Regions from separate parts of the Homo sapiens genome. Here regions 2, 3 and 4 are each reported to be linked to region 1. The links are microRNA targets in miRTarBase. Many come from high-throughput screens and were not tested one by one. Region 1 holds a microRNA gene; each other region holds the end of a gene's coding sequence.
The links. The annotated mature microRNA hsa-miR-7153-3p reads CACCAUGGACGGUUUACC and lies in region 1 at 2,632-2,649, opposite strand. An mRNA with a match to its seed (bases 2 to 7 or 8) in the 3' UTR can be bound and repressed. Matches are read on the target gene's strand: a 7mer-m8 pairs with bases 2 to 8, a 7mer-A1 pairs with bases 2 to 7 and ends in A, and an 8mer does both.

Region 2: the mRNA of XKR9 is a reported target of hsa-miR-7153-3p. Seed matches in the 3' UTR shown: 7mer-m8 at 5,336-5,342 and 7mer-m8 at 4,850-4,856.
Region 3: miRTarBase lists RLN2 as a target of hsa-miR-7153-3p. The part of its 3' UTR that is shown has no 7-base or 8-base seed match.
Region 4: the mRNA of FOXN3 is a reported target of hsa-miR-7153-3p. Seed matches in the 3' UTR shown: 7mer-m8 at 1,455-1,461.

The regions. Positions count from the first base shown.
Region 1 is chr18:11,652,254-11,660,001 of GRCh38, forward strand. MIR7153 (microRNA 7153) reads right to left here and starts at 2,688; the gene lies at 2,632-2,688. RefSeq lists an enhancer at 5,498-5,667 and a cis regulatory region at 5,583.
Region 2 is chr8:70,732,929-70,740,676 of GRCh38, reverse strand. XKR9 (XK related 9) reads right to left here. Exons shown (of 5, transcript NM_001011720.2): 5 at 4,735-6,881. The coding sequence ends at 6,253. Among named protein-coding and RNA genes, the nearest start is that of XKR9, 67 kb to the right of the region's middle.
Region 3 is chr9:5,292,829-5,300,576 of GRCh38, forward strand. RLN2 (relaxin 2) reads right to left here. Exons shown (of 2, transcript NM_134441.3): 2 at 7,036-7,616. The coding sequence ends at 7,270. Among named protein-coding and RNA genes, the nearest start is that of RLN2, 8.0 kb to the right of the region's middle. RefSeq lists an enhancer at 426-968.
Region 4 is chr14:89,155,304-89,163,051 of GRCh38, forward strand. FOXN3 (forkhead box N3) reads right to left here. Exons shown (of 6, transcript NM_005197.4): 6 at 874-7,666. The coding sequence ends at 7,111. Among named protein-coding and RNA genes, the nearest start is that of TRA-AGC15-1, 180 kb to the left of the region's middle.

The DNA of each region.
Region 1 (7,748 bases):
CTGAATCAGTGCAAGGTAATAGATATTGCTGCTTAAGACCACTGAGTGTTAGGTAATTTTTTTATGCAGGAATAGATAATGTTTCCCAATACAAAAGTATAGGGAAGCAAAGGGAAATTGGAGAATATTGAGGAATGAAAGCAGAGGTAGCACATGGGATTTAAAACAACCCATTGTTTTACATAAATGGGATCATATTTTATTTACTATTCTATGACATATTTTATACTTAAATTTTATGTAATTTTTTTCAGTAAAAGGAAATGACATGGCATTTTCATGATTTTTAAGAAAGGAATAGTTATTAAAATTTTATTGTGTGTGGTTTTCCTTTTTTTTCTTTTTTTTTTTTTTTTTTTTTTTTTGACAGAGTCTTGCTCTGTCACCCAGGCTGGTATGCAGTGACGCAATGTCGGCTCACTGCAACCACCGCCCCCCAGGTTCGAGTGATTCTCCTGCCTCAGTCTCCCAAGTAGCTGGAATTACAGGTGCACACCACCACGTCCAGCTAACTTTTTGTATTTTTACTACAGTTGGGGTTTCAACATGTTGGCCAGGCTGGAGGGCCCCTTGAACTCCTGACCTCAGCTGATCCACCCGCCTCAGCCTCCCAAAGTGCACCTGGCCTATGTGTGCTTTTCCAAACAGAAACATTAGTTCCAGTGAAAGAAAAAAAAAGTGGGGTACACTGCACCACCAGGAAAGAAATTTAAAGTATACCACAATCAAAAAAATGAATTAACAACCTTATTTTATTCTTAATAAATAAGACGAGAGGATTTTTTAAAAATCCACCTACACTCCTACCACAGTGATAGTTGGTTTTATTTTCCTCACGTTTTTTCCAGGTTTTACTCAAAAGTATTTGATTTTACACGGTTAAAATCAAACACACAAGTTTTATTCTTTGCTCGCTTAATGGTACATCTTACAGATTTTTCATGTTATTCCACAGACTTTACGTGTATCATTATTACAGATGTATGACAGTCCCTTCAGTTTCTTCAAAAATTTATACATTTCTCACTTTCCAGCCAGATGTGCAAAGAAAATGTGGGTTCTTTATCCTTTATAAACACTTGGATATTCTCATGAGCCCACTCCACCGGGAGTAAGGAAGGACACATAAACTTTGAACTTGAAACTTTATGTTACCACAGTCCCTGCCCAATTTCACGAGCTCTTGGGTGACTTCTGAGGCGGGTAAATAACGTTTCCTGCTTCTTCCACTCTCTTGCTCTTCTCCAAGAGGATGTGGGCCTGGAGTGGTGCCCATGCCTTCGCAGCGCTGGAGGCCTGTGCTCCTTCCATGGGTCCCCACCTTGGATCCTGTCCTGGGTGCACATTGGCTGGTTCCACTTAAGTGAGAGTGAAATGGAATCCAGCTGAGAAATGTGACTTTCCCTTTAGTACGGGCATCCCTCCCAAAGAGCCTGGCTGTCTCCCACTGCTGGCGAACCCCACCTCAGCTCCTGCTGTGCGGTGGGGCCTCTTGGCGTCCACTTGTTACATTGCAATCCCACCTGCCCCCAGTCCAGGCAGCTCACCTGGCCGCTCTCATCTGCAGGGCCCCTCCAACCCCACCTTGGCAGACTTCTAGGGCAAGCTCCCCAGCAAGTAGCTCAGATCTACCCTGCATCCCTAGGACGTCGGGGTCCCTTCCCACGCCACACAGCAGCTGATGCTGCTCTGGCACTCAAGCTTGTGCTTCATTTCCATTTGTAATCTAGGGAAGGCCCTTGCCCCTGTGCTCTCTTCGCAGGAATTCTGAAATGAGCAAGGCCAAATGCCCTCTTCCACAGGCCTTCTAGCCAACCCGTCTAAAGCACCTCCCTGCTGTGCTTCTGCATCCCTGCACCTGCCTCTTCTGCTCCCGTGGTGGCAGGATGGGGAGCAAAACCGAAAAACATCTGGGAAAGAACGCAAAGGAAGACAAAAAGCAAGCAGGACCCTTACCACAGGAAATAAGCAGCTGAAATGAAGGGGGAAACCAGGAGCATTGATCGAGAGCATGGGGAATGGTCTAGTGCCCCAAACAAAAAGTGTTAGGTGCCCACTGGCTTCAGCAACATGCAGGTACTGGGGGACCTTGAAATGATGCCGTTTCGGTGGAGTGGAGATGAGGAAGTCAGCCAGCCTGCAGTGGCTTCGGGAACAAGTCGAGGCAAGAAAGGAAGACAGTGGATGTAGACACTGCTTTCAAGAAATTTGACTGTGAAGGGAAGGAAAGATATGAGATATGGAATGCAGGTGGCAAATGCAGCATCCAGTATTTTGGCTTTTTGGTTGGGGCAAAGGTAAATTCAACACTGATGAGAGCCAGCCAGTAGTGAGGGGAAGGCTAGCAATTCAGACAGCGTCTTTTCTGCAGGAGGGAGGTAGGGTTTTCTGCTAAGAGAGTAAGCAGCAGGGGCAGGAGGATCAAAGGACCCGGGTACCAAGAAGTTTGGAAAGAGCTTCCATGCTTAATGCAGGAAAAGCGGAATGAAGACATACAAGAATTACCAAGGAGTGCTGGATGCGCAGACGGCCTCAGCCAGCACGAATTGACTGGGGCAGTGACCTGGAAGGAGATGGGTGCACCTGTGTGCTTCCCAGCAAATCCCGACTTCAGGGTCCGGTCACAGAAGTGGTAAACCGTCCATGGTGTGGATGACTTCGACCACCTACCACATTTGTCAGTTCTCACCACACCGAGCACAGGAGCTCGAGTAAACACGCTAGCTGGAATGTAAGCTCCAGGAAGGCAGGACGGTGCTGCCCACCATGACACAGCTGAAGGGTCCTTAGAAATCACCTAGTCAAACCACTCCATTGACAAGGAAACCCCCAGTTTGGAGAAGGAGGCCGGAGTCAAAGGCAGACCTCCTGAGCTCCACTCCCAGACCTTTCGCCAGCACGGGGTGACCTCCAACTCCCTCAGAGAACACAGCCCTCCCCCTTTGGCTTCCAGCTGGAGCGTGAATTCCCGAAGGACAGCTTCACTAGATGCCCAGATTTAGGAAAACTGTAAAGCAGAAATATCATTCCATTTTTAAAGCAACACAACCTCCCCACGTGATAGCTATTAGTAAATAGCTCACAGCTGCGAGGAGGGGCTCCAAAGGACACAACACCCTGTGCCATGGGGTTTCCACGAAGATACATTCCTAGGTGTGGGCACGGTACTCCTCCCCTCCCTGCGGCAACGCGACGGGATGGCACCGGCGCGCTCTGGGGTTCGGAACGAGGCCAGCAGGGGGCGGTCTACACCACTGAGTGTTTTCCCAGCTCGGTTTGTTGTTTGGAAGGAAATTCACGTGTGATCAATCACACCTTAAATATCTTCTGTAGCTATAAATATCAAACATATGTTTTCTAAATGGTTTACACTCCTTATCTCCCCTTTTATAAGTTCAATAGTAGAGAGGTCGTGGTGAGGGACAGAGAAGGAACACCAGACCTGGGTCCGCTGAAGAAACAAGCCCAACAGGAAACTGCCAGGCGAGACCGCTCAGTTGCCTCCCAAACACAGATGGAAGACAGGATTTTCTGGAATCACAGCAAAAGAAAAAAAAAAGCCTCAGCTTTGAACATCTCGACAGCAAATTCAATGTCTAGTCTTTATTATTGAGCAAGTTCCCTAAAACTTCAAAGAGGTAAGCACATCAAAAAAGTACTAAGTATGAAACCCTGGGAATATAAACACATAAGAGACATCCTCCTGTCTTTGAGGAACTGATAACAAAGGGGAAAGAAGATACTATCTCAGGAGTGCTCTGAGCGTGGTTAAGGGCGTGATTCATCCCTATTTAATCAATATAGCTAGGGAAGAAGATTCCAACTAAGCATGAAAGAATAGATGGGACTCCAACCAGATTGTGGAGCACTGGAAACCAAGATAGTACATGTAGCCATTTTTAAGTTTGAATAGCAATTATCTTTCTAGTACGTAATCAGGGTGCAAAGCTTATACCCCTCATAAAAGAGTTTACTGAAGTTCAGCTACAACTTCCAGGTCAACACTTCTCCCCAACCAACCCACCTTTTACTTTGTCCCTCCCCCAAGGGGCTCAGGCCCACTACTGGGGGTAACTCAGCAGGACATAAGCCAAAATTAGGCCATCAGTATCGTGCTTTGGAACGGATTTCATTCTCGATTTTTGAATCCCTTGAATCTCTGTGGTATTGTTAGGAAGGATGGTGTCCTTTATATAGCTTTCCATAAAAAGTGTCTGATTTGTCTGGATGTCCAGCACATTTTAACAAACTCAAGCCTCTAGACCTGGGAGCTGGACCATTGCTTCTACAACAAAGGCAAGTCAGACACAGGGATGGAGCCAGTTCCTCTGGTCTCATGTGTGTGGGGGCCTTCCTGTGCCAATGAATCTACCTCTACCACTCACCCCACCCTAGCTGCATCCCAATCAACAGACAGAGCTTGGTGTGGTGGCACCACCTGTAGGCCCAACTACTCGGGAGGCTGAGGTGCGAGGATCACTTGAGTGCAGGAGTTGGAGGCTAAAATGAGCTATGATCATGCCCCCCCTGCACTCTAGCCTGGGCAACATGGAAAGACCCCATCTCTAAAAAATAGATACAATACAAAACAGACACCAAAAAAGAAGCACCAGAATTTACTTTGTTCTAAGGGATATAGGCTTTGTCACTTCAACAGTCAGGTCATGGGAGTTCTCAGAAAGTGTTTTGACATTTGCTCCCTAGCAGAGGAAAGTCATTTGTGAAACTATTTTTAAACAGCAAAACTAAAAAGGTGGGGTGCCATCTCAGATGCTCATTAGACATTGAGTCCAGAGCTGCTTTGGGGGGTAAGACAGAGACACTGTGCTCTAAATACCAGCACAAGCATGAAGGACAGCGACCACAATCTGTGCAGCCAGTCCACTTCTTTAGGAAATTCGATTGTAAATACTTTGGAGCTGATGAGCTCTCCTGTGTCATCTTCATATCATGAAACCTAATAAAGGTCTCCGAATGCCTGCTTCCCCAGCACCTCCACACAGTAACAATTTCTTGCAGTTTCCATTTCCCTCAAACCTCCCACTGTTGCTGCCACCCTATGGAAGATGATCTTATCTCAAATACTTCAGAGAAAATCTGAAGACGCCGGTGAGGAATTCTGACGCATCCTGACGCCATTTCACCAGAGCCTGTGCGCAGCAATGCCACTCACTGCATCTTTTTTTTTTTAAAACTAAAACGAGAGCCCTTTCTTCCTATCAAAAGGCAGCACTTCTCTAGATGCTTCCGAGTAGCCCTGGCCCACCCAGCCTCCTCAGGCACTCCACTCCCTTTTTCCCTCTTTCTCATAAAACCTCAGCCTTTTCTCACAAAATGCCTCTCCATTGGCATCCGTGCCTGCTCTCCTTTGCCCCTGGGAGCCCCCCCCCCAGGATTTGGTCCCCTCCAGCTCCTTGCTCTCTCTTCCCACCGGAGCTTTGTTTTGATTCATCTGGCCATCCGTCCGTCCACTCTTCCTCAGCCCCACTCCTCAGCACCCCCCAGTCGGACATCCAGCCACTAAAACACTCTCCTTTAGGCCAGCAGAGGCTTGCGTGATGATAAGCCTGCCATCTTGCTCAGTTTCTTCATGGCTCTTGGAAGCCTTGCACACCGCTAAGCTTCTTGAAACACCCACTCCCCGGCTTCCTGAGGAACCACTCTCTGTTTACCCTCTGACCCTCTGGCCACATTTTCTGAGTTTCCTTTCAGAGCTCCTGCTCCTTCTCCAAGCCTAGTTTGAACATTGGAATTTATCAAAATCCTGCTTTCAACTCACTTCAGTTCTCACTCTGTGATCTCTCTTCAAAGGTCTCACCCACTCCCATGGCTTCAAACATGTTCACAATGCCAAATTTCCGTCTCTCGACCCAATCTCTGCTCTGAATTCCAGCCCTCCAGATCAACTCCCAACTGCACATCCCCGTGTGAAGGTCTCACATTGCCTCAACCTCAGAAGGTCCCAAAACCAGTGCAGAGTCAGCCTCCCCCCAACACAAGCTCATCCCACTTCACAAAATGGTTCTTCCATGGGAAAGTCATTTGTGCTGAGGACAAACTCATCCTTGATCCCTTTGTCCCTCCGCACTTGCATCCAACATGGCATTGAGTCCTACCCATTCTGTGTCCTAAATATATTTCAACCTCATCCACTTTTCTCCGTCTCTACTCCCTGTAACCTAACCAAAGCAACTATCATTTCCATGGCCTGACACTCCCAAGAGCATCCTACAGGCTTTCTTTCCCCCATCCGTGCTCCAAACAGCAGCTAGTTGGGAGAACATTACTTCCACAAACTTTTAAGTCACTGAAACCGTGATCTTCAGCGTGGTGTCAGGCCCCATGCAGTCTCACCTCCAGCCAGTCCTCCTCTGGGACACATGCCCCAGACACAGGGCTGTATTTTTTATTCTTGGGTGCCAAGCTTTCTTTGACCTGGGAGGTTTCTTTCATGGGTTTGCTGTATCTCTAACCCTCTTCTTTCCTGCCCTCCTAATTCCCTTCTCCATCTCTCCTTCCCTCCTCCTCTATCCAATCCAACCAGACCAATTCTTTTCGTACCTTAGAGTCTTAACTTGAATGTTTCTCTCTTAGGGACATTTTTCTGATGGCCAACATCTTTAGAAAAGTTTGTATCCTCTTATGTATTCATAACATTTCTCCAACTGTGTGATTGCAACTACCCAATTGTAATTAAGTAATTACTTGTTTAAAGTGACATCTGCCTTTCTAAATGACCAGCTCCGTGATTTGTACATGGCTGGGCCTGTACATGGCTGGGCTCACCATTGCTTCCCTCCACCCTAGAGCAGGTCCTAACACTCTCAAGCCAGTAAATATTTGCCGAATGAGTTAATGAACCCTCAGCTCCAGCTATTGTGTGAGCAAGAGTTGCATCACACCTTCTCATGCACCTCTTCAGAGCCTCAAGGCCTCATGAATCCTTAGTCCAGCTCTTCATGGGCTCAGGAGGATGGTTGCAAGTCCCAGTCTGCCCAGGAAGCACTCCCAGTCACCCTTGTTGCCCTGGCATAATTATTGCGACGCCCCCCCACCCCGGTTCACTCTCAAAGTGCCCTGGTTTGAACTATAAAAAATAGGCTCAACGCATGCTCTGATGGGCCTGATGCAGGCACAGTGTGAAAGAGGCCACATGCCTCTTGCCCCCAATGCTGGAGAGGTCACTGGTTGACACCACAGGTGATCTCACCCCTGGGGTGCATGAGTCCAAGGGTAGGGGAGTTAGCATCCCAACTGGAGAGGAGAGCCAGTCCAGGAATCCCCCTTTTTCCATGGCAGAGGAGGCATCCCCGGAACGAGGTTGGTGTGGCTTCTCAGAGCCACAGTCCCAAGCTCCCTGATATGAGCTCTCTCCCTATCTCTCTTCTTTATCCCCACCCCTCCTTCCTTCTGCATCAGGCTTTGATTTCTGGAGAACCCAGATTAAAATGAGGATTTACTTCCATGTGGCCCTAAAGGAAAGAATTAGAACTGAAGAGTAGGAGAGCAGGAACACGAGAAGATACATTTTGGTTCAATATGCAGCCAACCTGACAGAAGCACACATATGGAATTATCTTCCTGGGGGAAGAGTTCTCTGTCATTCATAGGTGTTCAGACAGAAGCTAGACAGTCACAGACAGGACTATTGCAAGGAAGAGCTCAGTATCCGATGGGGCTGGGTTAGCTTTTCATTGCCTTCCTATTGAGGATTCCAAGATGCAATATTTAATGAAAAGTTATTTCAT
Region 2 (7,748 bases), not on the chromosome of region 1:
GGAAAACTAACAAACAGAAAGGACATCCACACCAAAAACCCATCTGTACATCACCATCATCAAAGACCAAAAGTAGATAAAACCACAAAGATGGGGAAAAAAACAGAGCAGAAAAACTGGAAACTCTAAAAAGCAGAGCACCTCTCCTCCAAAGGAACGCAGTTCCTCACCAGCAACAGAACAAAGCTGGACAGAGAATGACTTTGACGAGTTGAGAGAAGAAGGCTTCAGATGATCAAACTACTCCGAGCTACAGGAGGAAATTCAAACCAAAGGCAAAGAAGTTAAAAACTTTGAAAAAAATTTAGACAAATGTATAACTAGAATAACCAATACAGAGAAGTGCTTAAAGGAGCTGATGGAGCTGAAAACCAAGGCTCGAGAACTACGTGAAGAATGCAGAAGACTCAGGAGCCAATGCGATCAACTGGAAGAAAGGGTATCAGTGATGGAAGATGAAATGAATGAAATGAAGCGAGAAGGGAAGTTTAGAGAAAAAAGAATAAAAAGAAACGAACAAAGCCTCCAAGAAATATGGGACTATGTGAAAAGACCAAATCTACATCTGATTGCTGTACCTGAAAGTGACGGGCAGAATGGAACCAAGTTGGAAAACACTCTGCAGGATATTATCCAGGAGAACTTCCCCAGTCTACCAAGGCAGGCCAACATTCACATACAGGAAATACAGAGAACGCCACAAAGATACTCCTCAAGAAGAGCAACTCCAAGACACATAATTGTCAGATTCACCAAAGTTGAAATGAAGGAAAAAATGTTAAGGGCAGCCAGAGAGAAAGGTTGGGTTACCCACAAAGGGAAGCCCATCAGACCAACGGCGGATCTCTCGGCAGAAACTCTACAAGCCAGAAGAGAGTGGGGGCCAATATTCAACATTCTGAAAGAAAAGAATTTTCAACCCAGAATTTCATATCCAGACAAACTAAGCTTAATAAGTGAAGGAGAAATAAAATACTTTACAGACAAGCAAATGCTGAGAGATTTTGTCACCACCAAGCTTGCCCTAAAAGAGCTCCTGAAGGAAGCACTAAACATGGAAAGGAACAACCGGTACCAGCCACTGCAAAATCATGCCAAATTGTAAAGACCATCGAGGCTAGGAAGAAACTGCATCAACTAATGAGCAAAATAACCAGCTAACATCATAATGACAGGATCAAATTCGCACATAACAATATTAACTTTAAATGTAAATGGACTAAATGCTCCAGTTAAAAGACACAGACTGGCAAATTGGATAAAGAGTCAAGACCCATCAGTGTGCTGTATTCAGGAAACCCATCTCATGTGCAGAGACACACATAGGCTCAAAATAAAAGGATGGAGGAAGATGTACCAAGCAAATGGAAAACAAAAAAGGCAGGGATTGCAATCATAGTCTCTGATAAAAGAGACTTTAAACCAACAAACATCAAAAGAGACAAAGAAGGCCATTACTTAATGGTAAAGGGATCAATTCAACAAGAAGAGCTCACTATCCTAAATATATATACACCCAATACAGGAGCACCCAGATTCATAAAGCAAGTCCTGAGTGACCTACAAACAGACTTAGATTCCCACACAATAATAATGGGAGACTAACACCTCATTGTCAACATTAGACAGATCAACAAGACAGAAAGTTAACAAGGATACCCAGGAATTGAACTCAGCTCTGCACCAAGCGGACCTAATAGACATCTACAGAACTCTCCACCCCAAATCAACAGAATATACATTTCTTTCAGTACCACACCACACCTATTCCAAAATTGACCACATACTTGGAAGTAAAGCTCTCCTCAGCAAATGTAAAACACCAGAAATTATAACAAACTGTCTCTCAGACCACAGTGCAATCAAACTAGAACTCAGGATTAAGAAACTCACTCAAAACCACTCAACTACACGGAAACTGAACAACCTGCTCCTGAATGACTACTGGGTACATAACGAAATGAAGGCAGAAATAAAGATGTTCTTTGAAACCAACGAGAACAAAGACACAACATACCAGAATCTCTGGGACACATTCAAGGCAGTGTATAGAGGGAAATTTATAGCACTAAATGCCCACAAGAGAAAGCAGGAAAGATCAAAAATTGACACCCTAACATCACAATTAAAAGAACTAGAAAAGCAAGGGCAAACACATTCAAAAGGTAGCAGAAGGCAAGAAATAACTAAAATCAGACCAGAACTGAAGGAAATAGAGACACAAAAAACCCTTCAAAAAATTAATGAATCCAGGAGCTGATTTTTTGAAAGGATCAACAAAATTGATAGACCGCTAGCAAGACTAATAAAGAAGAAAAGAGAAAAGAATCAAATAGACACAATAAAAAATGATAAAGGGGACATCACCACCGATCCCACAGAAATACAAACTACCATCAGAGAATACTATAAACACCTCTACACAAATAAACTAGAAAATCTAGAAGAAATGGATAAATTCCTTGACACATACACCCTCCCAACACTAACCCAGGAAGAAGTTGAATCTCTGAATAGACCAATAACAGGATCTGAAATTGTGGCAATAATCAATAGCTTACCAACCAAAAAGAGTCCAGGACCAGATGGATTCACAGCCGAATTCTACCAGAGGTACAAGGAGGAACTGGTACCATTCCTTCTGAAACTATTCCACTCAATAGAAAAAGAGGGAATCCTCCCTAACTCATTTTATGAGGCCAGCATCATCCGGATACCAAAGCCTGGCAGAGACACAACCAAAAAAGAGAATTTTAGACCAATATCCTTGATGAACATTGATGCAAAAATCCTCAATAAAATACTGGCAAACCGAATCCAGCAGCACATCAAAAAGCTTATCCACCATGATCAAGTGGGCTTCATCCCTGGGATGCAAGGCTGGTTCAATATATGCAAATCAAGAAATGTAATCCAGCATATAAACAGAACCAAAGACAAAAACCACATGATTATCTCAATAGATGCAGAAAAGGCCTTTGACAAAATTCAACAACGCTTCATGCTAAAAACTCTCAATAAATTAGGTATTGATGGGATGTATCTCAAAATAATAAGAGCTATCTATGACAAACCCACAGCCAATATCATACTGAATGGGCAAAAACTGGAAGCATTCCCTTTGAAAACTGGCACAAGACAGGGATGCCCTCTCTCACCACTCCTATTCAACATAGTGTTGGAAGTTCTGGCCAGGGCAATTAGGCAGGAGAAGGAAATAAAGGGTATTCAATCAGGAAAAGAGGAAGTCAAATTGTCCCTGTTTGCAGATGACATGATTGTATATCTAGAAAACCCCATTGTCTCAGCCCAAAATCTCCTTAAGCTGATAAGCAACTTCGGCAAAGTCTCAGGATACAAAATCAATGTACAAAAATCACAAGCATTCTTATACACCAATAACAGACAAACAGAGAGCCAAATCATGAGTGAACTCCCATTCACAATTGCTTCAAAGAGAATAAAATACTTAGGAATCCAACTTACAAGGGATGTGAAGGACCTCTTCAAGGAGAACTACAAACCACTGCTCAGTGAAATAAAAGAGGATACAAACAAATGGAAGAACATTCCATGCTCATGGATAGGAAGAATCAATATCATGAAAATGGCCATACTGCCGAAGGTAATTTATAGATTCAATGTCATCCCCATAAAGCTACCAATGACTTTCTTCACAGAATTGGAAAAAACTACTTTAAAGTTCATATGGAACCAAAAAAGAGCCCGCATCGCCGAGTCAATCCTAAGCCAAAAGAACAAAGCTGGAGGCATCACGCTACCTGACTTCAAACTATACTACAAGGCTACAGTAACCAAAACAGCATGGTACTGGTACCAAAACAGAGATATAGATCAATGGAACAGAACAGAGCCCTCAGAAATAACGCCGCATATCTACAACTATCTGATCTTTGACAAACCTGACAAAAACAAGCAATGGGGAAAGGATTCCCTATTTAATAAATGGTGCTGGGAAAACTGGCTAGCCATATGTAGAAAGCTGAAACTGGATCCCTTCCTTACACCTTATACAAAAGTTAATTCAAGATGGATTAAAGACTTAAATGTTAGACCTAAAACCATAAAATCCCTAGAAGAAAACCTAGGCATTACCATTCAGGACATAGGCATGGGCACAGAATTCATGTCTAAAACACCAAAAGCAATGGCAACAAAAGCCAAAATTGACAAATGGGATCTAATTAAAATAAAGAGCTTCTGCACAGCAAAAGAAATTACCATCAGAGTGAACAGGCAACCTACAAAATGGGAGAAAATGTTCGCAACCTACTCATCTGACAAAGGGCTAATATCCAGAATCTACAATGAACTCAAACAAATTTACAAGAAAAAACAAACAACCCCATCAAAAAGTGGGCGAAGGACATGAACAGACACTTCTCAAAAGAAGACATTTATTTATGCAACCAAAAAACACATGAAAAAATGCTCACCATCACTGGCCATCAGAGAAATGCAAATCAAAACCACAATGAGATACCATCTCACACCAGTTAGAATGGCAATCATTAAAAAGTCAGGAAACAACAGGTGCTGGAGAGGATGTGGAGAAATAGGAACACTTTTACACTGTTGCTGGGACTGTAAACTCGTTCAACTATTGTGGAAGTCAGTGTGGTGATTCCTCAGGGATCTAGAACTAGAAATACCATTTGACCCAGCCATCCCATTACTGGGTATATACCCAAAGGATTATAAATCATGCTGCTATAAAGACACATGCACACGTATGTTTATTGCAGCACTATTCACAATAGCAAAGACTTGGAACCAACCCAAATGTCCAACAACAATAGACTGGATTAAGAAAATGTGGCACATATACACCATGGAATACTATGCAGCCATAAAAAATGATGAGTTCATGTCCTTTGTAGGGACATGGATGAAGCTGGAAATCATCATTCTCAGTAAACTATCGCAAGAACAAAAAACCAAACACTGCATATTCTCACTCATAGGTGGGAACTGAACAATGAGAACACATGGACACAGGAAGGGGATCATCACACTCTGGGGACTGTTGTGGGGTGGGGGGAGGGGGGAGGGATAGCTTTAGGAGATATACCTAATGATAAATGACGAGTTAATGGGTGCAGCACACCAGCATGGCACATGTATACATATGTAACTAACCTGCACATTGTGCACATGTACCCTAAACCTTAAAGTATAATAATAATAATAATAATATAAAATTAAAAAATTAAAAATAAATAAATAAACAAAGTCCCCACCACTTCCAAATGCCATCAACATACAAATTTGGAGATTAAGTTTCACACACATGAAATCTGGGGGGCACATTCAAACCATGGCAACAAGGTATCTAAAGTATTCAAACTCATAGAAACAAAAAATTATAATTTCAGTTGAGAGAGACTTGGGGAAGGAGGAAATGGGGATTTGTTCAATAAATAGAGAATCTTAGTTTTACAAGGTGAAAAAGTCCTTGAGATCTGTTGCACAAGGTGAATACAGTTAACACTGATGAACTGTACACTCAAAGTGATTAAGATGGTAAATTTTATATGTTTTTACCATAATTTTTTAAAAATAAAAATAATTTTAAAATATGATTTAGATACAACTATTCTAGCACAAATAGGATTAATATAATTATATGTTAAGAGTGCATTAATTCAGAAAAGCTAGGAAATAAGTAAATAATGAAATGTCAGACCTCTCAGATGCACACCAATTCTCTTTTGCACTTACTGAATTGGAGATTTCATGGATGAAAGCACAGCAGATGCTAAAAATTTGTTTTCTGCTTTCCCTTCTTTCCCTTTTCCTCTACTCAACCTGTCCCCAACTGCAAATATATGCACTGAAGACAATAAAGGAAAAAATAATACAGTGTTCTGCTTTTCTCTTCCCTTTGCAGTCCTCCATAACAGGTACAGTAGTATTAGTTCAGGAACAAGGAAAATGGGAGGGAAGCTCAATTCCAGCCTTCTCATTATGAAAACCAGACCATTTCTTATATTTCAGGCTCAAGATGGCAGCTCTACCAGGCAGTAGAAAGATATCTGAGTACTCAAGATCTTCAAAACCAAATGAGAAATTAATTTTAAAAATAAAATACTACTATGTATCTCCTATTTCACTGAACTAATTTCAAATTAAAGGTGGCAAAAATAAGAGACAACACACCCACATAACACACATTTTCTTTACTAACCAATGAAACAAAATATAAGAAAATATATATCATAAATGAATAGCTTATTCCATTAGGAAATATCTCATTCTACATTCTCTTAGAACTGGTTTTCCATCAATTTCATCACATTTTGTTTCTGCACTTCTGTTTGGGTGAAAACTCCCATAATAAACAATAAGAAAAAGAATTCCAAGAAGAAGAGTAAGAACTATAGTTATACTGATAGGTATAAAATAGTCTGGATTAAAAATAGTGAGGGGGCAAACCCAGAATACAGTCAATATCCCCAAAGTGCCCAGTACCCTAACAATATAATAACAAGACATTGGACACTTGGTATTCTGTCCCTTAATATTAAAAAATGTAAAGATAAGAATGAATCCAACAACAATCCTATATAAGAATTCCATACTTATACAAGTACAAAACTGGGTGTTGTTTTTAAATGCCCATATTATACCTAACAACCAAAGAAATAACAACAGAAATAAAGCAATCTTAACATTTAAGAATAGTAGAAGTACAACACTCAGCATCCACGATAATAATGTAAACAACTTGTAAAAGAGATATGTGATTTTGGGACATAATCCATTAAGAAGCTTTTTGTCAGGCAAGGATTTTCTTAAAGCTACTTGATAATCAACAGTTGACCAAGAAATAGCACAGCAAGAGACCATGATGGCCGCATCTACAAAACAAAAAAATAAAAAATATATTGTTATAGGAATAATAGAAATATTAGATTACTATATCCCATACATGCTATATCTATATACACACACCCACAAACACGTCACATACTTTACTCTTCTCATCTAATCTTTTGAAGTAGATATTATTATGTATGGGGGAACTGAGACTTGGAGAGATACACTGCTTGACCCAAGTTGCAAAGCTAGTAAGTTGCAGAACTGAGATTTGAACCTGATTCCAAAGTGGATAGATTTATCCACTATATTAGACTGTTTTATTATGATTTTTTAAAAATTCATGGGACAAATTTTATTGAGCAACTGATATACTGAAAAAAGCATACTCTGTGAGTTAAGAGACTACAGTTATAATCCTAGTTTTTCTAGATGTTTTGACTGTGATTTTAGGCATACACCCAATTCACTAAGAGATAATAGCTTCAAGCAGGGGTAAGGGAAGGAGAGGAGGAGGGGTAGAGAGAGAGAAAGAGGGTTAAACAGAAAATTTAATATGAGATATTAAACAAGCCCAACTTCCCATATCCTGAAGATATTGAAACAAGTGAATGAGTATGTTCTAAAACTTACAACTTTCTGTAGGATTGATATCTATACCCCATTTTTTCTCAGCAAATAACAGAAAAGTAAGTTAATTACCACTCTCTTTATTTCTTTCCTTCTTTTTGAGATGGAGTCTCACTCTGTCACTATGGCTGGAGTGCAGTGGTGCAATGTTGACCTCCACCTCCCGGGTTCAACCAATTCACCTGCCTCAGCCTCCTGAGTAGCTGGGCTACAGGCCCATGCCACCACACCAAGCTAACTTCTGTATTTTTAGTACAGATGGAGTTTCACCATGTTGG
Region 3 (7,748 bases), not on the chromosome of region 1:
TTGTCACAGAAGATGGGTGATTTCTGCATTTCTAACTGAGGTACCTGGTTCATCTCACTGGGACTGGTTGGACAGTGGGTGCAGCCCACGGAAGACAAGCCGAAGCAGGGCAGGGCATCACCTCAACTGGGAAGCACAAGGGGTGAGGGAATTTTCTCCCCTACCCAAGGGAAGCCATGAGGGTCTGAGCCTGAGGAACTCCGGCACAGATACTGTGCTTGTCCCATGGTCTTTGCAACCTGCAAGCCAGGAGATCCCCTCTGGTGCCTACCCAACCAGGGCCCTGGGTTTCAAGCACAAAACTGGGCGGCCAATTGGGCAGACATCAAACTAGCTGCAGGAGATCTTTTTTTTTTTTCCCCATACCCCAGTGGTGCCTGGAATGCCAGCGAGACAGAACTGTTCACTCCCCTGGAAAGGGGTGCTGAAGCCGGGAGCCAAGTGATCTGGCTTGGCGGGTCCCACCTACACAGAGCCCAGGAAACTAAGATCCACTGGCTTGAAATTCTCGCTGCCAACACAGCAGCAATCTGAGATCCACCTGGGACATTCGAGCTTGGTTGGGGGAGGGGGATCCACCATTGTTGAGGCTTGAGTAGGCAGCTTTATGGTCACAGTGTAAACAAAGCCACTGGGAAGTTCAAATTGGGCAGACCCCACTGCAGCTCAGCAAGGCTGCTATGGCCAGACTGCCAGATTCCTCCTCTCTGGACAGGGCATCTCTGTAAAACAGGCAGCAGCCCCAGTCAGGGGCTTATAGCATACTTAAACATCCCTGCCTGATGGCTCTGAAGAGAGCAGTGGACTTCCCAGCACAGCGTTCAAGCTCTGCTAAGGGTCAGACTGCCTCCTCAAGTGGGTCCCTGACCCCTATGTATACTGACTGGGACACACCTCCCAATAGGGGCCAACAGACATCTCATACAGGAGACCTCTGGCTGGCATCTGGGAGGTGCCCCTCTGGGTCGAAACTTCCAGAGGAAAGAACAGGCAGTAATCTTTGCTGCTCTGCAGTCTCTGCTGGTGATACCCAGGCAAACAGGACTGGGAGTGGACCTCCAGCAAACTCCAGCAGACTGGCAGCAGAGGGGGCCTGACTGTTAGAAGGAAAAGAAATAAACAGAAAGGATTAGCACACCCACTCAAAGACCCCATCTGAAGGTCGCTAATATCAAAGACCAAAGGTAGATAAATCCACAAAGATGGGGAAAAACCAGTGCAAAAGGCTGAAAATTCCAAAAACCAGAATGCCTCTCCTCATCCAAAGGATCACAACTCCTTGCCAGCAAGGAACAAAACTGGATGGAGAATGAGTTTGACAAACTGATAGAAGTAGGCTTCAGAAGGTGGGTAATAACAAACTCCTCCAAGCTAAAGGAGCATGTTCTAACTCAATACAAGGAAGCTAAGAGCCTTGAATAAAGGTTAGTTGAATTGCTAACTGGAATAATCAATGTAGAGAAGAACATAAATGACCTGATGAAGCTGAAAAACACAGCACGAGAACTTTGTGAAGAATACACAAGTACCAATAGCTGAATTGATCAAATGGAAGAAAGGATATCAGTAATTGAAGATTAACTCATTGAAATAAAGAGAGAAGACAAGATTAGAGAAAAAAGAATAAAAAGGAATGAACAAAGTCTTCAAGAAATATGGGACTATGTGAAAAGACAAAATCTACGTCTGATTGGTGTACCTAAAAGTGAAGGGGAGAATGGAACCAAGTTGGAAAACACATCTCAGGATATTATCCAGAACTTCCCCAACCTAGCAAGACAGGCCAACATTCAAATTCAGGAAATACAGAGACCACCACAAAATACTCCTTGAGAAGAGCAACCCCAAGACACATAACTGTCAGATTCACCTAGGTTGAAATGAAGGAAAAAATGTTAAGGGCAGCCAGAGAGAAATATTGGGGCAGCCAGAGAGAAAGGTCAGGTTACCCACAAAGGGAGACCCATCAGACTAACAGTGGATCTCTCTGCAGAAACCCTACAAGCCAGTAAAGAGTAGGGACCAATATTCGACGTTCTCAAAGAAAAGAATTTTCAAACCATAATTTCATATCCAGCCAAACTAAGCTTCATAAAGGAGGGAGAAATAAAATCCTTTACAGACAAGCAGATGCTGAGGGATTTTGTCACCACCAGACCTGCCTTACAAGAATTCCTGAAGGCAGCACTAAACATGGAAAGGAACAACTGGTACCAGCCACTGCAAAAACATGACAAATTATAAAGAACATCGATGCTATGAAGAAACTGCATCAACTAACAGGCAAAACAACCAGCTAGCATCATAATGACAGGATCAAATTCACACATAACAATATTAATCTTAAATGTAAATGGGCTAAATGCCCCAATTAAAAGACACAGACTGGCAAATTGGATAAAGAGTCAAGACCCATCAGTGTGCTGTCTTCAGGAGACCCATCTGACGTGCAAAGACACACATAGGCTCAAAATAAAGGGATGGAGGAATATTTACCAAGCAAATGGAAAGCAAAAAAAAAAAAAAAGCAGGAGTTGCAATCCTAATCTCTGATAAAACAGACTTTAAACCAACAAAGATCAAAAGAGACAAAGAAGGGCATTGCATAATGGTAAAGGGATCAATTCACCAAGAAGAGCTAACTATCCTAAATATATATGTATCCAATACAGAAGAACCCAGATTCATAAAGCAAGTTTTTAGAGACCCGCAAAGAGACTTAGACTCCCACACAATAATAGTGGGAGACTTTAACACCCCACTGTCAATATTAGACAGACCAACAAGACAGAAAATTAACAAGGATATTCAGGACTTGAACTCAGCTCTGGACCAAGCGGACCTAATAGACATCTACAGAACTCTGCACCCCAAATCAAAAGAATACACATTCTTCTCAGCACCTCATCGCAGTTATTCTAAAATTGACCACATAATTGGAAGTAAAACACTCCTCAGCCAATAGAAAAGAATGGAAATCATAACAAACAGTCTCTCAGACCACAGTGCAATCAAATTAGAACTCAGGATTAAGAAACTCACTCAAAACCACACAATTACAAAAAAACTGAACAATCTGCTCCTGAATGACTACTGAGTAAATAATGAAATGAAGGCAGAAATAAAAATGTTCTTTGAAACCAATGAGAATGAAGACACAAAGTAACAGACTCTCTGGGACACATTTAAAGCAGTGTGTAGAGGGAAATTTATAGCACTAAATGCCCACAAGAGAAAGCAGGAAAGATCTAAAATTGATATCCTAATATTAAAAATAAAAGAACTAGAGAAGCAACAGCAAACAAATTCAAAAGCTAGCAGAAGACATGAAATAACTAACATCAGAGCAGAACTGAAGGAGATAGAGACATGAAACACCCTTCAAAAAATCAATGAATCCAGGAGCTGGTTTTTTGAAAAAACTCAACAAAATAGATAGACCGCTAGCCAGACTAATAAAGAAGAAATAGAGAAGAATCAAATAGACACAATAAAAAATGACATAGGGGATATCACCACTGATCTCACAGAAATACAAACTACCATCAGAGAATACTATAAACACTTCCACACAAATAAACTAGAAAATCTAGAAGAAATGGATAAATAACTGGACACAAACACCCTCCCAAGTCTAAGCCAGAAAGAAGTTGAACCCCTGAATAAACCAATAACAAGGTCAGAAATTGAGGCAGTAATTAATAGCTTACCAACCAAAAGAAGTCCAGGACCAGATGGATTCACAGCCAAATTCTAGCAGAGGTACAAAGAGGAGCTGGTACCATTCCTTCTGAAACTATTCCAAACAATAGAAAAAGAAAGAATCCTCCCTAACTCATTTTATGAAGACAGCATCATCCTGATACCAAAACCTGGCAGAGATACAACAAAAAAAGGAAATTGCAGGCCAATATCCCTAATGAACATCAATGAGAAAATCCTCAATAAAATACTGGCAAACTGAATCCAGCAGCACATCAAAAAGCTTATCCACCATGACCAAGTTGGCTTCATACCTGGGATGCAAGGCTGGTTCAACATACACAAATCAATAAACATAATCCATCACATAAACAGAACCAATGACAAAAACCACACGATTATCTCAATAGATGCAGAAAAGGCCTTCAATAGAATTCAACACCACTTCATGCTAAAAACTCAATAAACAGGTATTGATAGAACATATCTCAAAATAATAGGAGCTATTTATGACAAACCCACAGCCAATATCATACTGAATTGGCAAGAGCTGGAAGCATTCCCTTTGAAAACTGGCACAAGACAAGGATGCCTTCACTCATCACTCCTATTTAACACAGTACTGGAAGTTCTGGCCAGGGCAATCAGGCAAGAGAAAGCAGTACAGGTATTCGAACAGGAAGAGAGGAAGTCAAATTGTCTCTGTTGGCAGATGACGTGACTGTATATTTAGAAAACCCCATTGTTTCAGCCCAAAAACCCCTTAAGCTGATAAGCAACTTCAGCAACGTCTCAGGATACAAAATCAATGTGCAAAAATCACAAGCATTCGTATACACCAATAACAGACAAACAGAGAGCCAAATCATGAGTAAACTCCCATTCACAATTGCTACTAAGAAAATAAAATACCTAGGAATACAACTTACAAGGGAGGTGAAGTACCTGTTCAAAGAGAACTACAAACCACTGCTCAAGGATATAAGAGAGGATACAAACAAATGGAAAAGCATTCCATGCTCGTGGATACAAAGAATCAATATCATGACAATGGCCATATTGCCCAAAGAAATTTATACATTCAATGCTATCCCCATCAAGCTACCATTGACTTTCTTCACAGAATTGGAAAAAACTACTTTAAACTTCATATGGAACCAAAAAAGAGCCCGCATAGCCAAGACAATCCTGGGCAACAAGGACAAAACTGGAGGCATCGCACTATCTGACTTCAAACTATACTACAAGGCTACAATAACCAAAACAACATGGTACTGGTACCAAAACAGATATATAGATGAATGGAACAGAATGGAGGCCTCAGAAATAAACCACACATCTAGAACCATCTGATCTTCAACAAACCTGACAAAAACAAGCAATGGGGAAAGAATTCCCTATTTAATAAATGGTGTTTGGAAAACTGGCTAGCCATATGGAGAAAACTGAAACTGGACCCCTTCCTTACCTTATACAAAAATCAACTCAAGACGGATTAAAGACTTAAACGTAAGACCTAGGGCCATAAAAATCCTAGAAGAAAACCTGGGCAATTCCATTCAGGACATATGCATGGGCAAAGACTTCATGACTGAAACACCAAAAGCAATGGCAACAAAAGCTAAAATTGACAAAAGGGATCACATTAAACTAAAGAGCTTCTGGACAGCAAATGAAACTATCATCAGAGTGAACAGGCAACATACAGAATGGGAGAAAATTTTTGCAATCTGTCCATCTGACAAAGGCCTAATATCCAGAATCTACCAAGAACTTAAACAACTTCACAAAAAAAAAAACCCCATCAAAAAGTGGGCAAAGGATATGAACAGATACTTCTCAAAAGAAGACATTTATGCAGCCAACAGACATGAAAAAATACTCATCATCACAGGTCATTAGAGAAATGCAAATCAAAACCACAATGAGATACCATCTCATGCCAGTTAGAATGGCGATCATTAAAATGTCAGGAAACAACTGATGCTGGAGAGGCTGTGGATAAGTAGGAATGCTTTTACACTGTTGGTGGGAGTGTAAATTAGTTCAACCACTGTGGAAGACAGTGTGGTGATTCCTCCAGGATCTAGAACTAGAAATACCATTTGACCCAGCAATCCCATTACTGGGCATATGCCCAAAGGATTATAAATCATTCTACAATAAAGACATTTGCACATGTGTTTATTGCGTCACTATTCACAATAGCAAAGACTTGGAACCAACCCAAATGTCCATCAATGATAGACTGGATTAAGAAAACGTGGCACATATACACCATGGAATACTATGCAGCCATAAAAAAGGATGAGTTTATGTCCTTTGCAGGGTCATGGATGAAGCTGGAAACCATCATTCTCAGCAAACTATCACAAGATCAGAAAACCAAACACCACATGTTCTCACTCATAAATGGGAGTTGAACAATGAGAACACATGGACACAGGGAGGGGAATATCACACACCGTGGCCTGTTTGGGGGTGGGGGGCTAGGGGAGGGATAGCATTGGAGAAATACCTACTGTAGGTGATGGGTTGATGGGTGAAGCAAACCACCATGGAACATGTATATCTATGTAACAAACCTGCACGTTCTGCACATGTAACCAAGAACTTAAAGTATAATTTTTAAAAAAGAAAAAAAATAGACAGAACCAGTAAAATACTAAGTTGATAACTACGTCAGTTTACTTTTCTAACAAGTGTTCATACTATTTCAGTAATTTTGCTTACAGAAATAGTTTGCAAATTCTAAAGAAGTGAACATAAATTATGTTCCTTCATTATACTATTTCTTCTGTAATATATGATATGGACTTGTTTGTTCTGTTCTATATTATGTCTATTCCTTTTTATCCTTAAAAAATAATTTACTTTTAAGTTTCTTAGACACTGGAACTGAGAACAGAACCCTAGCTTGAAAAGTACTTGAGTTCCCTTCAGACTATACTAGAAAAAAAGGAAATTAAAAAGGAAAAAAAAGCGTTTGAGTTTATATGGTCTTAACTAAATTACATTGGTTTAGTGTCCAATCCGATTGTTTGCAATGAGTATTTCAATATGACACAAAAACCTTTTGTAATCTATTAGGAAAGGTCAAGTTTTATGGCTTTATCTATATCCAATCTAAGAGTTAATATCAATAAAACATTTTGGTCCATTTCATGTAACTGGTGTTAGGTATTGTTACTACTATATGGTGTTAGGTATTGTAACAACTGTATTGTTACTACGTATGGTTAAAGCGGTAGAGGTTTTATTGTAATTTTAAGTTAACAGCATTAAAAAGAATAACACAACATAATCATGCTGTTAATAAAAAGACAAAAAGGCTTTTCAGCAAAAAAATGTGTCATTTAATCACACAAAGAACATTTTCTTACACATCAAATAAAAAAATCTAAACATCAACAAAGATGTTTAGATATTCTAAGAATTGATGGGACCTAATATCTAACAAAGATTCTTAGATATTCTAAGAATTGATGGGACCTGATAGAAGCATCAGTGAAATGTCATTAAGAATATGTGTGAATATTATACGAGATGTGCACAATTAGCTTCATCTCAGCAAAATCTAGCAAGAGATCTTTTGGTACAACCAACATGGCAACATTTATTAGCCAATGCACTGTAGAGTTGTCTCTTTTTTCGAGAATGAGTATCCAAGCCTAAGTATTTTAATTCTGAAGGACTGCTGTCTGCGGCTTCACTTTGTCTATTGCGAATAAGTTTCTTAAATTCTTCAAAGAGAAGACTGGAATCTTTTAATACAGGTACATGTTGTTGTAGCTGTGGTAATGCTGGCTGCATCTCAGACAGGGTTAACTTCAGCTCCTGTGGCAAATTAGCAACAAATTCTGACATCATATTTATGGTTTCTGTATCTTTGTTGATGAAGGATGGCACAATTTCTGTTAAATTTAAAAAAAAAGGTGTATGTGAGGGTATATTCATGTCAAAGAGCACTCAGAAAAACTATGAATGTTTGCATAGACAAAAAAGCATTGCCTCAGTATAAATTAAACATTGAAACAAAATAAGCA
Region 4 (7,748 bases), not on the chromosome of region 1:
GAGGTGACCACCTTGAGATGGGTAACGGGGAGGAATTTATCCCCGTAAGCTTACCAGGACAGATGGGCCTATGACCTCAGAATGATACCATAACTGCAGGAGGACAGGAGACGCAGCCCAAGCATCTTGGAGAACAAAGACACCAGTGGATGTGGGGGCCCAGCAGAAGGGTAGTGTCCAAGGCCAACTCTACACTACGGTTACTGTTGGTGGCAAGACCTGCAGACAGGACATGCTGAAAACAAAACCATCACAAAAGGAACCAGAGAGATGCACGAGAACATCCTCTTTCTACTCCTCCAGCACGGTGAGTGGTGCCCTGTGATCCCTTCCTTGTTCCCACTCCCCTCTCTCCCATCAGCTCCTTGTTGGCTCCTGGGGGATGTGTGTGCGAGGGTCTGGGGTGGGCACTTGAGTGATGACGTAATAAACCCTGGCAGATGAAGGTCTTAGGGCTAGGAATGTCATTACAAGAAACCCTCAGGATCTGGGATAGGCTGGCAGGCTCCAGTACTAAAGTACAATTGCAGTTTATTGTTTGACAACTTCCAAATGAAAGGGAAGCTCTGTCTAAACCACAAGTCTTAAGGCTCATGATGGGAGGCTGGCCAGCCACCAGCTACACCAAAGCTGGAATTCTCTTGAGATCCCGGGTAAGCCCAGCTTCCGAATGTGCATTTGTGTTTGCAGAGCAGTGTGTGATGCCCACCCAAGCCTACGCACGTGTGAGGATGGGCACAATAAATGCAGCTGAGAACCCCGAAACCAGACTGCAAAAACTGCACACACGCCTGACCGCAGGTAAGGAACAGAAATGACGTTGTGGACCAGCATCTGCACAGGGAGGCGCAGCACACATAACACTACGTGGTGTTTTTCTTCAATTGATGCAACTCAGTAATTTTTATTGCAACTGGAAGACAATACATCACAGAAACTTTATGGTAGGTCTGGGGAAAAGTGTTATTTACAATAAATGATGAAATAGTTTGTCTTTGGCAATATGATTACATACGAAGAATGCAAAATGCAGGTATGGATGCCTTCCAAGCAACACCAAGTCCCTAGAGTTCGGCTGATCGCGCCTGCCTCCACACTGTTTCTTTAGGTTTACATGAACATAACAGAACATCACGTTCTTTCTCCTTTATGGTTCTCCCTTTCTATTCATGATATTGGCAGTTTCATACAGAAAATACAGAAAAAAAATTGGCTTTTGAAAAATTATTACTCTCGTAAATTAATTTGGCCGTGTAGGTCTATTGGCCAGCCAAGGTCAGACGACCCTAAGCATCAATAGTAAACCTCTTGGTCTTCTGATTGCTTTATCACTTTTTTTTTTTTTCTGTAAAACAAAACAAAACTCAGAAATGTTACAGAATCAGAGTATTAAAAAATGTACAAGTGTATATGCTTCCCAGACACACATGGATACATTTTTCCTCCACATTTTCACCATGGCAGTATTAAGTAGTGAGTGTGAATGACACAGCATGAAACTGGTTACTGAATCAGCTATGAGCTCAGATGGCCTCAACATACATACTCAAGAAATGTTGCATGTTTAAATAACTGAGAGTGTGCTAAATCTCATCTAAAAAAAAGGAGGAGAGGGGCTGGGGAACTCAGGCCACAGTCATGAAAGGATGAATACAATTTCTAGGTTTAATAGGTTCACCATATCGAAGTCTTTGAGAATCCAATATGGAATATCAATTATTTTGCAAAAGGTAGAGAAAGCAGTTCTCAACTTTTGCAAATGAAATACAGTGGAAAAACACTGTTGTATATATTCCAAATAAATAGTCTCGATTTCAATGCTAACAAAACAACAGGAAGGGTACTCGTGAGCATCTCACGGTTAAGTCAGAAATGATCGTTCACACACGTCTGATTTCAGAAGTACAACAGCAAGGTGCAGCACCATAGACACATCGGTTTCGGCTGTTAAAAGATGGATCGTTTTAAAAACTGTGTTTTCCTTCCTTAATTTTTGGTCAGTGAAGCTAGCACTTGTTTGCTGAACTGTGGAAGAACTGCAAGGTCACACACATTATTCATGATAAAGCAACCGAGCTGACGAGTCTGTGCTTAATTCAAGAATAACCAGTAGGAGAGAGAGAAAACACAAGGAGTTAACCACCATCGCCGGTGCTCTCTCAAAGGAAGAGGGGTTAACAGATGAATTCACAAAGGTAGGCAGATCTATACAGAACACTGAATGCCATGTGTAAATCCTCATGAAACTCCAGAAACAGGAACACCACACAATGTATATACTTTGATTTACACATTCCGTTACAAAGGAAAAAAAGACACCATTACAGCTTTGTAACTGTGTTAACTGCAATATAAACCAAGTCCAGAGTTTGGCAGGTAACTAAAAGAGGGTTATCACTTAGGTTATATAGCAAAAGTGTTGATGTATATTATATATAGTAGTATAAATAATAAAAAAGTATTATTTAAATTAGATCACAGTGCTGCATTATGTGCATAACAGTGTTTGATATAGTATTGGTGGGCTGGGACCTACGACACTAAGGACTTAACTGTCAACACTGGGAAGTCACAATCAAGAGGAAACACAGAGTTCCAATGTTTTCTTTTGGTGGCAAAAAAAATCCTGAAGATGAAAGAAAAATACTTCTCTACAGAAACATAAAAATCAATTGCAACATCTGGGCAGCTGTGATCCACCAGAAAGAAACGAGTCCCAACCTGGATTAAAGGGAAAGAGAAATCACATGGAATTTAATCCAATCTCATCTAGAAAAGCTTCCCATTTAGGTCACTTGTACGTAACTCCAATTCCTTCTCCAAGAGCCCTTCCAGGAGAGGCCCAAGGCGCCCCCCACAGAGTGGAATGAGTGGAACTTGCGTCAGTAGCCCTTGGCCTGGGCAGTCCTGGCGTGGTGCAGAACTCTGAGCTGGGCACAGAAGGCCTCCACCTGGTTCTCACTCTACAGAGCCCACTGCCTGATGCTGTCCCTCAGGCAGGAGCCTCCTTCAACACAACGGCCCCTCCCAGAAGGCTCTGTGGTAGTAACTGCTGTGGCCAGCAAGCACTAGACACATTGAATGCCTCTGCAAAACAAAAGAAAACTCTGTTCTTGGGAATCGGCCTCTGGCACATTCCTTCTTAAAAACTCCCAAGATTGAGACCTGCCACAATCGTTTTGGCCATGGTTTTCTCCAACCACCAGTGAAATATGGGTTTGGTTCATTTTAGTTTCAGATAGATGGCTTCACCAAAGAACTCTTGAAAGAATACTGATTAGGGAGGGGCAGGGAAGTAGGAGCTTATGGTATATTATAAGGCTGGGAAAAATCTATGATGCAAACCCTTTCCACATAGTACTAGATAAAGACAAAAGACAATTATAATAGGATAAAAATAACTGTTTATATGTATATCATTTAAGAAAAAAAAGAGTGACTGTCTCTTTCTCTTAAATGTATCCGAGGGCCAATAGCAAGTAATCGTAGACGTCGTGGTGTTGATGTGTTCACGGTTGGTTTCCAAAGCATCTTTAAATATTGCTATAGTTCCCCGTTTCCCCCTCCCCCCTGCCCCGTGTGAGTATGTGAGATACTGGAATGACACATGAACCGCCACTTCTCCCAGCAGGAGAAATGAAAGCAAAAACGCCACACCTCTTAATGGTGTTCAGGCGATCTGTCAGACTAATGGATACATATGCTAGTTTGGAAGCTAAAAGAACACCTGACGTTTGGGAAGGAATTCCAAGACTAAAGTGAATGACACTTAAGCAAAATATTCTTTCACAAATAGGCTTGTGCTTAAATTCTCTACTGCTCTTGGAGGAGGGGATAAGAGAGGGTGCCTCCTGCCCCTTGGCTTGTTAAGGACACGGACAACCTCATTCTCCAATAAATTCACTACAAACAGCCACATACACATTGATACTTTTTGTTTTTGTTCTCAACAATCAAAATACAAAGTTAAACACAATTGAGCCATTGTTTTGGTTATGCATAATGTGTATGCCTCCAAAAACAGAAGAAAAATAGGAAGAAGTACCCTCACTAAAGGTTCCCCGACAAGTCTTCCGGCAGATCCAACGAAGGGAGACTCAGGAAAATCACACTTAGAAAGCTGCCCGATGAGGTATTTATGCAAAAAGAGTGGTTCTGGAGTTAAGAACACACTTTTATATTTCTCTATTTCTCAAAGAGATCAGAAAAGTAAATCACACACATTGCATTTTATTATTTTCTAAAAGAGGCCTCTGCCCCTTTAGAAAAATGAAATGAGGGGAGACAGCCCACGGTGGGGGTTTTAATTGGAAGAAGTCCTCGGCCAGAAACAGTCCTGAATGTTGAACCTCTGCCTTTCAGGAGAGAGGTCTGAATTTTATCATCTGTGGGGTGGGATGAAGGTGGGGGACTGAGCTGGAGGTCTTTAGGCTTGGTCAGGTGACAACACAAATCAAGGTGTCGCTCAGGTTCCATAGCTGTGGATGGCTTTTAGGGTGTCAGATGTCTGGGGAGACGGAGGGAACAGAGCACTGCGAAGATACTTTATTCCCACCTACACCCTGAATAAATATGCTGGAAGTATTCAGCTTCAGGTCATGAATTCGACCTGCTGTAGAGGTGTAGGTTTTTTCAGGTTCTCTCATCAGCAACCCACCGGAAGGTAAGTGTGGGGAATGCACCAGTTAGTTCCCACTGTCCGGGCTGATGGAGCTCTGACATTACCTCGTCCTGGCAGATGGGCTTGGCTTTGGCCCACAGCAGTCCCTTTTTTAAAAGTTAAGGTCATCTCTGTTCCCTCCCTCTCCTCACGCATCATATCCTGAGCCACAGTACTGGGTGTTTTTGTTTTAAAGTTTCCCTCCACTTGGATGGAAGATCATATTCTTTTAGAGATTTCTCTTTGTACCCCCGCCCCCCGCCCCCGCCATTAAAGAAAATTTCTTAGGCAAAGGTAACAACAGGAGTTTCTGGGCTGCATGACGTTGTCTGGTTTCTAAATTCAGCTCTCGCAATCTAGGTGGTCTTAATTCCAGGTTGGTCAGTGTGCTGAAGGTAGCGATGGCCGGCCCCTGCTTCCTATTGCGACATGGCATTGTGGCGATAGGATGTCTGGGGCTGGCCTTTCCTACCTCGGCATCGCTTCCTCCTTCACATGAACCCCATCTCGTCCCCTCACCCAATAAGGCCCATTAGCACGGTTCCCCTTCTTCTGGCTAATTTGCATAATTATTCACTGCCTTTTTCCTAGAACCAAATCATGGTAATGATTTTCTCAAGTAAGCGTCCCATAATTCTCTTGATTCTATCATACACACTCACTACTAAGTTTGCCCTCAAATTATTGCGTCATGTTAAACATGTACAGACAGAGAGAAAGGACACACTTTTCAACAGAGAATCAGAGGGGGTCGGGGCTGAAGTGCACACAAGGCAGTACAGAGTTCAACCATCCAAGCCCTACCAGAGCATGAAGATATTTTTATATTGCAGAGTAAGTTCCCCAACAGTCAGAATTTGTCCCTGAAGAAGGTTAAACCTTAAACACCTGCTTCAAAAAACCAAAACAAAATAACCCGAAAAAAAAACAAAAACAAAAAACAAAAACAAAAACAAAAAGGAAAAAAAGAAAGCAAAGAAAAGGAAAGAAAAAAGAAGAAAACCAAAAGAAACTCTAAGCCTAAGGGCTTAAAAATTACAGGCATAGCCTTTTCTCTATTTTCTATATTTATATGAAAATAATTCATGCTTCATGCTAAATACATTATTTACCTTACAAGAACTTTGTTACTTTTGAATAAAAAAAGTTTGTTTTTGTGATTTTTTTCTCTTTTTCTTTTTTTTCTTCAAAGGAATCCATGCATTGTGGATCAGAAATTTCTGCTGGCTATACTGGCTGAATGTGGAAATCACTGATTTTTGCAAAGATAAATCCTGATATTAATTGCAAACTCCATTTTGAGGGCAGTATAGGAGTTATTTTATTTTTTGCCATGTTTTACTTTTTTTTTTTGTCCATCAGTGTACCTTTAATCTTAAAAATACACCACAATACTAATGGCAGGTTCCGTAGCTTTCTAGTTTTTTTTTTTTTTTCACTTGGATCAAATAGTTTTGATAGACAGAAAAAGATCTGTACCATTATTTCCTTTCCTTAACAGCTATTGTAATTTCCTGGACTTGGTTGCTTTTCACTTGGGCAGTTAAGAAGACACAGCTTGTTTTCCCCATCAGTTTTCTCTCTCTCTCCTTCGTGTGTGTGTGTGTGTGTGTGTGTGTGTGTGTGTGTGTGTGCGTGCGTGCACAGGGCCAATCTTCAGGCTTATGGCTTTTGGAACATTTTCTTAATTTAATAGAGAACAGAATTCAATGATTAGCAACATCACTAAAAATTTACCCCATTTCTTCTCCATGAGTCACTGACACCCGATGCGCATGAACAGTCCAACGTCCACCTCGTAAGATGTCATCGGGCTTCAGGGTTCAGAAGCATCGAGGACTGGTGGCCGGCCCTCTGTGCTCGCCGTGTGACAATTCCAGTGGCTTTCCTGGCACCATCAGATGCCTGGTGCCACAAGCTTGGGTCTGCTCCTAGGGGGACGAGGGGTTCCTCCTCCTCCTCAATTGCTTTATGTGCCTTCACTCAGTGAACCCAATGGGATGGACAACCTGACTTTTTAAACCTAAGGGTTGGGCCTGAACGATGATTACTTTGCCCACGTGCCTTCTAGGTGCCGAATGTGTGTTCCTGTGATATTGACGTTGACATCCCTGCGGATTCAGCCACAGGTTTCTGACAAGCTGGAGGAAGCAATGGTAATTTTGGCTTTTTCGGTTTTGTCTTCAGATAATGAAAAGCTTTTGTAAAACAGCTGAGTGTCAATATGAGTTCTATGGCTTCAATCTCCTTTAAAAATAAAATTCTTAAGGGTCCAAAACAAAGAAGAGGGGGCAAATTAAAACAAAATAAAAGGAAAAGAAAAGAAAGAAAACCAAACCAAAAACAAGAAAAAAGAAAAAAAATTGCTGATATTGCCACAAATCATTAGAAATCTCCTGACATGCTGAAACCAAATGGTCGTAAGTTCAAAACAAATCAGTGACTTGTTTTTAATTTTTTGTGGTTTCCTTTTGCTCTTTCTGCCCCTTTGCCGTCCGATTGGTGATGTTATTCAAACAGGACCGGATCCCTGCTAAGTGCAGGAGGGACCCTGCCGCTTCTTTCATCTCCTCATCATCGCTCTCGGGGGGCTTTTCGGTGCGTCTCTTTTTGAGGGGCAGTGTGTCGCTGGGGACCTTCCTGGCCTTGGCGAAGTGCTGGCGCTTCTTGTGCTGGGATGCGTACCCGCTGTCCCCCAGAGAATCCTTGGGCTCCTTCTGGCTGTGCTTCCTGTCGTCCTCTTCCGTGTCGCTGGGGCTCTCGTGGCTCCGGAAGCTCCCCTCGCTGCCCTCGCTGCCCTCCTGGCTCCCCTTGGTGGCAAACTCATAGTGGTCGTCGGCTGAGGAGGAGGAGGAGGAGATGGAGTCGCTGGTGGGCGAGGTGCTCCGGGCGTTGGAGGACTTGGCACTGCTGTAGTTGTGATCCTCCTTGGGGTCTCCGCTGACCACTGGGGAGCCACAAGATGGCTCACTCTCAGTCCGCATCCGGCAGCTGGTGATGCCATTCCTGCAGAGCGAGGACAGTGGGGAGGGACGGGAGACAAAGAAGGGACACAGTTAGACGTCCTCAGATGGGGGCACCCGGCAGC